Linked DNA regions of Homo sapiens. The protein of the gene in region 1 interacts with the protein of each later gene in a pairwise test. Each region holds a gene or a part of one and is shown in the gene's direction. Other genes may lie near its edges.

Region 1 (3,360 bases):
GACGCCTACCTGGTCCACCTGATCCAGCGCTTCCAGGATGAGCACGAGGACTGGTCCATTATCATCTTCACCAACACGTGCAAGTGAGCGGGGCCCGCCTCTCCCCTCCCACCGCCCTTCAAAGGAGGAGGTGGCCCGACGTCTTTGGTCTGGGACACACAGCCAGTCTCAGCACTCCCCAGCCTCTGCTCAGCCTGGAGGTCATGGGGGCTTCCCTCAAGGAGCCAAGGTCCCTCAATCTGAAGGTGCAGCCGGCCTTTGGGGTTCCTCAGCCCAGCCGTTGATGGAAGGGCCAGGAAACCCCTGCAAGCAGCTGTTTGAGCAGCCCATTTGCTGTGTTCTGGGGGTGTCACTGAGCTTTCCTGGGCCTTTAGTCCCATCTCAGAGGAAGTTGTGACAACTAACAGGCCTGGTGTGCGTCTGCACAGACAGAGACCCCTGGGGAGGGCAGTTCATATCTTCATTGAATTGTTTGGGAAGGTCATTGAGAAGCTGGAGGCTCTTCCAGCATGAGCCAGGATAGAAGGGCAGAAATCAAGGCGCTTTAAATGCGTTACCTCCCAGAAGAGAAAAGTTGGGACTGGGTGCAGTGACTCACACCTGTAATCCCAGCACTTTGGGAGGCCGAGGTAGGCGGATCACCTGAGGTCAGGAGTTCGAGACCAGCCTGCCCAACGTGGTGAAACTTCATCTCGACTAAAAATACAAAAATTAGCCAGGCATGGTGGCGAGCACCTGTAGTCCCAGCTACTGGGGAAGGTGAGGCGGGAGAATCACTTGAACCCGGTAGGTGGAGGTTACAGTGAGCCGAGATCACGCCACTGCACTCCATCCTGGGGGACAAAGTGAGACTGTCTCAGGGAAAAAGAGAGAAAAGTTTGGCTGCAGGGTGGCTGTCAGGCGTGGCAGGATCCAGCAGCTTATGTGATGGTCCCCATCCTTTCTCCCTGTGCCCCTCTTTCTCCTCTGTTTTCCTCTGCTGGCTCCTTCTTGGCCTTCTTGGTAACAGTGACCACCCCTAGCAAGTCAGTTTCCAGCCTTCCAGCCCTGCAGTCCCAGGGCCAACTCTTGTCAGTTCCAGCTCCAGGGAGGGATCAGCAGAGAGGACATCAGGCAGGCAAGCCGTCTGTCAACCCTCATCCTGCCTCTTTTTTTTTTTTTTTTTTTTGAGAGTCTCACGCTGTCCCCCAGGCTGGAGTGCAATGGCGCAATCTCGGCTCACTGCAACCTCTGTCTCCTGGGTTCAAACAATTCTCCTGCCTCAGCCTCCTGAGTAGCTGAGGCTACAGTCATACACCATCATGCCCGGCTAATTTTTGTGTTTTTAGTACAGATGGGGTTTTGCCATGTTGGGCAGGCTGGTCTTGAACTCCTGGCCTCAAGTGATCCACCCGCCTCAGTCTCCCAAAGTGCTGGGATTACAGGCATGAGCCACCGTGCCTGGCCTGCTGCCTCTCCTTTCTAAGCTGCATGAGGCCACTGTGCTAGGTGTCTCAGGGGCGGGTGGGGGCAGGAACACCTTCCCAGAACCTGAGAGCTGGAGGGGTTGACAGGCACATCCTTCCCGCCAGGACCTGCCAGATTCTGTGCATGATGCTGCGCAAATTCAGCTTCCCCACCGTGGCTCTGCACTCCATGATGAAGCAGGTGAGGCCACCCTGGGGCCCGCCAGCCTCACCCTGGGATACCTTCCCCGCCTCAGACATTGGCCCCGATCCTTCCTTCTGCCGGGCGCCTTCTTCCTGCCACCTGGTCTCTTCTGGTCCCAGAATATCGCAGCTCAAGAGGCCCTCCCTGACCGCATCTCTTTTAGCCGTCATTCATTTGTCCCGGTCTGACTTCTCATGGCCACCTTCCTCAATGGACGGCTGGGGACTGTCCCGGCCTCCACCCTGTCCCGAGGCCTCACACAGAAAACCCTGCCTTCATGCATTCCCAATTTTCTTCCCAACCCTGTGCAGAAAGAACGCTTTGCCGCCCTAGCCAAGTTCAAGTCCAGCATCTACCGGATCCTGATCGCAACAGACGTGGCCTCCCGGTGAGCAGCCCCCAGTCTCCTGCCAAGGGCACTCCCTCTTTTACTACAAGGCCCCACAGATGAGAAGGCTGGCCTCAGGCATGTCAGGCAGCCCTAGCATCCCTGCTGAGTGACCCTGGGTGAGTCCTTGCCTCGGTTTCCCCACATGGACAGTGGAGCTGACCAGCCACCTCTGCCTCCAGGGGCCTGGACATCCCTACGGTACAGGTGGTCATCAACCACAACACCCCCGGGCTCCCCAAGATCTACATCCACCGAGTCGGCCGGACGGCCCGTGCAGGTGAGCAGTGGAGGGGGAGGCCGAGCCTTGGGCCTCTGTCCCTCCAGCCTGCCCAGCAAATTCAGGTGGTAGGACGTGGGTAGGGTGCAGCCCACAGATGAGAGCTACTCAGGGCCATGTTTGCAAGTTGGGGAGTTGTCCTTTCTAAAGCAAAGGTGAATCCCAGCTACTCGGGAGGCTGAGGCAAGAAGATCACTTGAACCCGGGAGGTTGCGGCAAGCTGAGAATGCACTATTGCACCCCAGCCTGGGCAAAAAGAGCAAAACTCTGTCTCCAAAAAAATAAAATAAAATAGGCCAGGTGCGGTGGCTCACGCCTGTAATCTTAGCACTTTGGGAGGCCGAGGTGGGTGGATCACGAGGTCAGGAGTTCGAGACCAGCCTGGCCAACATAGTGAAACACTGTCTTACTAAAAATACAAAAAAATTAGCCAGGCGTGGTGGAGGGTGCCTGTAATCCCAGCTACTCGGGAGGCTGAGGCAGGAGAATTGCTTGAACCCGGGAAGCGGAGGTTGCAATGAGTGGAGATCGCACAATTGCACTCCAGCCTGAGCAACAGTGTAAGACTCTGTCTCAAAAAATAATAATAAACTAAAATAAGTAAATAAAATAAAATTGTAAAATAAAGCAAATGCAAGTCAGGTGCTGCCTTCACCCAAGCCAGGTGATGAACTGAGCAGTGTGGGGCTGCCCCCTGGGAGGGTGCACACACAGCTCCGGCCCCCACTACTTGCTGCTGCCTCGTCAGGGAGGGGCATGGTGTCCATGAGATGCTGTCAGTTCTGAAGCCAGGAAAGATGTGGTTGCTGGGGTCGGACTGGGCCTGGACCTTCTATCCTGACCCTGTGGTGCTGGGCAGGTCACTTCCACTCCCTAGACCTCACATGGTGGATAATGAGAATGGTGACGTCCTCGTGGGGCTGCCATGAGGGTCACGGACCTTGTCCACCATCAGTGCAGTTTCGGCCCTAGTCAACGTCACAGAAAACAGCAAGCAGAGATCTTGGGCTGAGGCCCGTCAGGGCTAATGGCTGGCATTACT
Region 2 (3,652 bases), on another chromosome or scaffold:
AACTGGTTCTGTTTGTGGCCAAGAATTGCTGTCAGTACTAACCAGCTATTTCATAGCTGTTGCATGAGGAAAGGGACTAGAGTAGGATTGTACCCCTCAGTCTATGCTTTGTTTACTCTGAGTGTACAAAAGATGGTGGGCTTTAGGAACAGGGGTAGTGAATAATTTGGGGCACTGTTATTCCTTCTGCTTTACTTTAAGTATGACTCTTTATCTCTTCTACCAGGATATGAATTGTCTCCCACGGCAGCAGCTAACTTCACACGCCGAAACCTGGCTGACTGTCTTCGGAGTCGGGTAAGTAATATATCAGACATTGTTAGATAGAGCAGAAAAATCCTTTGTGCTTCTTTTATATTCTCATTATACATGAGTAGTATTTTTGCCCTTTTTTGGCCTTCCAGAACCCCTCCTGTTGCTACTTGTTCATTCTTAAGTCCAATGTCTTTGTGCACAGTTGTTATTAATAGGTACAGCCCAAAGGGCAAATATTCATTCCCAGAGAATTGGTTGGGACACACCAATATGAAGGCCTGTGACAACTTACCCTTTTTTTTTCCCCCTAAAAACTATTTTTTAGAGCAGTGTTAGGTTCACAGCAAAATTGAGAAGAAGTATAAAGATTTCCCACATTCCTCCTCACCCACATGTATAGCATTCCCCATTATCAGCATCTTCCACCAGGGTGATACATTGTCACAAATGATGAGCCTATATTGACAGTAATCACCCAGGTCCATAGTTTACATTAGGGTTTACTTTTGCTGTTGTGGATGTTATGGGTTTGGACAAATGTATAATGACATGTATCTACCATTACAGGATACAGAGTATTTTCACTGCCCTAAAAATCCTTTGTACTCTACTTATTCATCCTTCTCCATCCCCACAACTCCTGACAACCACTCATCTTTTTACTTTCTCCATGGTTTTGCCTTTCCCATCATGTCATATAGTTGGAATCATGGATTATGCAGCCTTTTCAGATTGGCTTCTTTTATTTGGTAATACACGTTTAAGGTTACCCTATGTCTTTTCATGGCTTGATAGCTCATTTCTTTTTAACATTGAAAAATACTCCATTGTCTAGATATACTACAGGTTATTTATCCATTCACCTACTGAAGGACATCTTGGTTGCTTCCAAGTTTTGGCAATATGAATAAAGCTAATGTATACATCCATGTGCAGGTTTTTGTTTGAACATAAGTTTTTTTTTGCGTAAATACCAAGGAGTGTGATTGCTGGATCATATAGTAAGAGTACGTTTAGTTTTTTCAAAGTGTTTTTGTAACAAACCATATTACTTAATACCTGTGACTGAAAGTCTCTATGTGTTAGTGAAAGTAGAACTTTGAAAATAATAATTCAGATTATTTTTATTTTTATTTTTTTGAGATGGAGTTTCACTCTTGTTGCCCAAACTAGAGTGCAATGGTGCAATCTTGGCTTACTGGAACCTCTGCCTCCTGGGTTCAAGTGATTCTCCTGCCTCCATTTCCCAAGTAGCTGGGATTACAGGCATGCACCACCACGCCCAGCTAATTTTGTATTTTTAGCAGACACGGGGTTTCTCCATGTTGGTCAGGTGTCAGGCTGGTCTCGAACTCCTGATCTCAGGTGATCTGCCCGCCTTGGCCTCCCAAAGTGCTGGGATTACAGGCGCGAGCCACCGCACCTGGCCGGTAATGTGGATTTTTATCTCGAGATTGCTTATCTGTGTTTCTCTTTTTTTCTTTTTCTTTTTTCTTTTTTTTTTTGAGACGGGGTCTCACTCCAGTTGCCCAGGCTGGAGTGTAGTGGTGTGATCTCAGCTTACTGAAGCCTCAACTTCCCGGGTTCAGGTGATTCTCCCACCTCAGCCTCCCAAGTAGCTGGGACTACAGGTGTGCACCACCACATCTGGCTAATTTTTTGTATTTTTAGTGGAGGCAGGATTTCACCATGTGGCCCAGGCTGGTCTTGAACTCCTGGACTCAAGCAATCTGCTGGCCTTGGCCTTTCAGGGTGCTGGGATTATAGGAATGAGCCACTCACTGTACCTGGCGTACTTACCTGTGTTTTTCTATGACTTTTTCCCAAAGCATACAGCATTGTTCCTCCTTACTTATTCTAGCCTTGTTGCTATTCTAGAGCTGTCTCCATTTCATCGACAGCATGTTAAAAGATGCAACACTAAGTTAAGGATTGAATGCATTAAAGATTGTGTAGGATGTGCTAGGAAAGTTCATATGGTTGCTAAAGGTGTGTGTTATTCCCTTCCCACAGGGACTAAATAAATAGAGCCTTACCACGTGATCTCACCCCCTGTGCCTGTTTACTTATCTATGAAATGGAGATAACTTCCTAACCCCACAGGGGTGCCAGGAAAATGAATGCTTGTAAATCATAATATTTAACATTCATGTGACTTTTGCCCAAAGCATTTTGCTTAATAATTTAATCTACTCACTATTCCACTGAGAAAGATAGTCTCTATCACTGAGATGAAGTGAAAGGCATAAAGTGTCAAAGGGACTAGCTCCAGGTCACACAGCAGGTCAGACAAAGCTAAAATAATGGTGCCATAATTATTTGACTATTCTGCCTTTGGTTCTTCAGTAGTGTTTCTAGAACACTGATGCTATTCATATTTTTATTATGGTTTGAGTTTTCATCTGTACTTGCTTAAAATAACAAGTTACTTTTTTTAAAGTTACTTACTACAGATCTATAAAGCAGTTTATTTTCTAGTGCCTAATAATCTTTGACTGATAATTTCTCAATAAATAGTACCTCTCAGTGCTAGCTTTGACCAAGGGCTTGTACAATCTGAGGGATCATGAAGTTTGAAGAGAAGCTAGAGACATGTAGGATTGAGAGGAGGAGGCAAATTTACATACATTGTTTTGTCCTGGGTGAAAGATCAGTAGTCTTTTCTTTAAAAAAAAAAAAAAAAATATATATATATATATATATATATATATATATATATTTTTTTTTTTTTTTTTTTCTTCCAAGAAAGTCATTGTCACCAAGTGGTCTTTTCTTCACTCCTCCTTGAGAAAGGAAAATGGGTCAGATATTAGTTTTTCTGTCACCCAGAAGTTCCTGTGGTGTTCAGCATTTTATGACTTGCCATGTACGATGTTCCTCTGACTTATCAGGCAGAACCGGAGTAAGAATTCCAGCTTTGGGCACAATAAATACTGTGTCATAAATATCACAGACATTAAGTGAATTAAGCTCCTTTTTGGAATTGAGATAAGAATGGCAGTGTGCTTCATGCAAATGCAGTGAATCTGGTTTAATCTTCTCCTAGCAGAAATGTTTGATGTCTTAACAAATATCCCTTGTAGACAGTGACATGGGGCTCTGGTAAATATTGACTACCTCTGCCTGAGCTTTTCCAGTAGGTCCAATCTCTGCTCCCCCATCTCCTTATCAAAATAGATTCTTAGTTCTAAAATATGAATTTATATTTTAGTCGTCTTATTCTGGGAAGAGAGATGATAGTTTGTCAGTGTTCCTAATAAGTGCAAAGTCACCAAATTTAGTATATTTATATGGTCACACCAGTTGGCAGATGTGACTCATTTTGGGTCAGCCAGTTACCATGTATAACTTCTGTGTCTGTAGCTCAAATTGTTTGATTTCTAATTTGCTCTGTGTA

Evidence for each region. The genes of interacting proteins can lie anywhere in the genome.
Region 2: the proteins of DDX49 (region 1) and PSMB2 interact in a two-hybrid assay, tested with the Homo sapiens proteins (one large-scale study listed by BioGRID and IntAct).

What each region holds. Positions count from the first base shown.
Region 1 is NC_000019.10:18,922,662-18,926,021, forward strand, and holds part of DDX49 (probable ATP-dependent RNA helicase DDX49), read left to right. Parts: coding exon 1-83; intron 84-1,571; coding exon 1,572-1,647; intron 1,648-1,961; coding exon 1,962-2,038; intron 2,039-2,220; coding exon 2,221-2,318; intron 2,319-3,360. UniProt on the Homo sapiens protein: ATP-dependent RNA helicase that plays a role in various aspects of RNA metabolism including the regulation of mRNA export and the levels of pre-ribosomal RNA. Regulates the stability and synthesis of pre-ribosomal RNA and thereby regulates cell proliferation.
Region 2 is NC_000001.11:35,627,919-35,631,570, reverse strand, and holds part of PSMB2 (proteasome subunit beta type-2), read left to right. Parts: intron 1-33; exon of another isoform or gene 34-135; intron 136-226; coding exon 227-297; intron 298-3,652. UniProt on the Homo sapiens protein: Non-catalytic component of the 20S core proteasome complex involved in the proteolytic degradation of most intracellular proteins. This complex plays numerous essential roles within the cell by associating with different regulatory particles.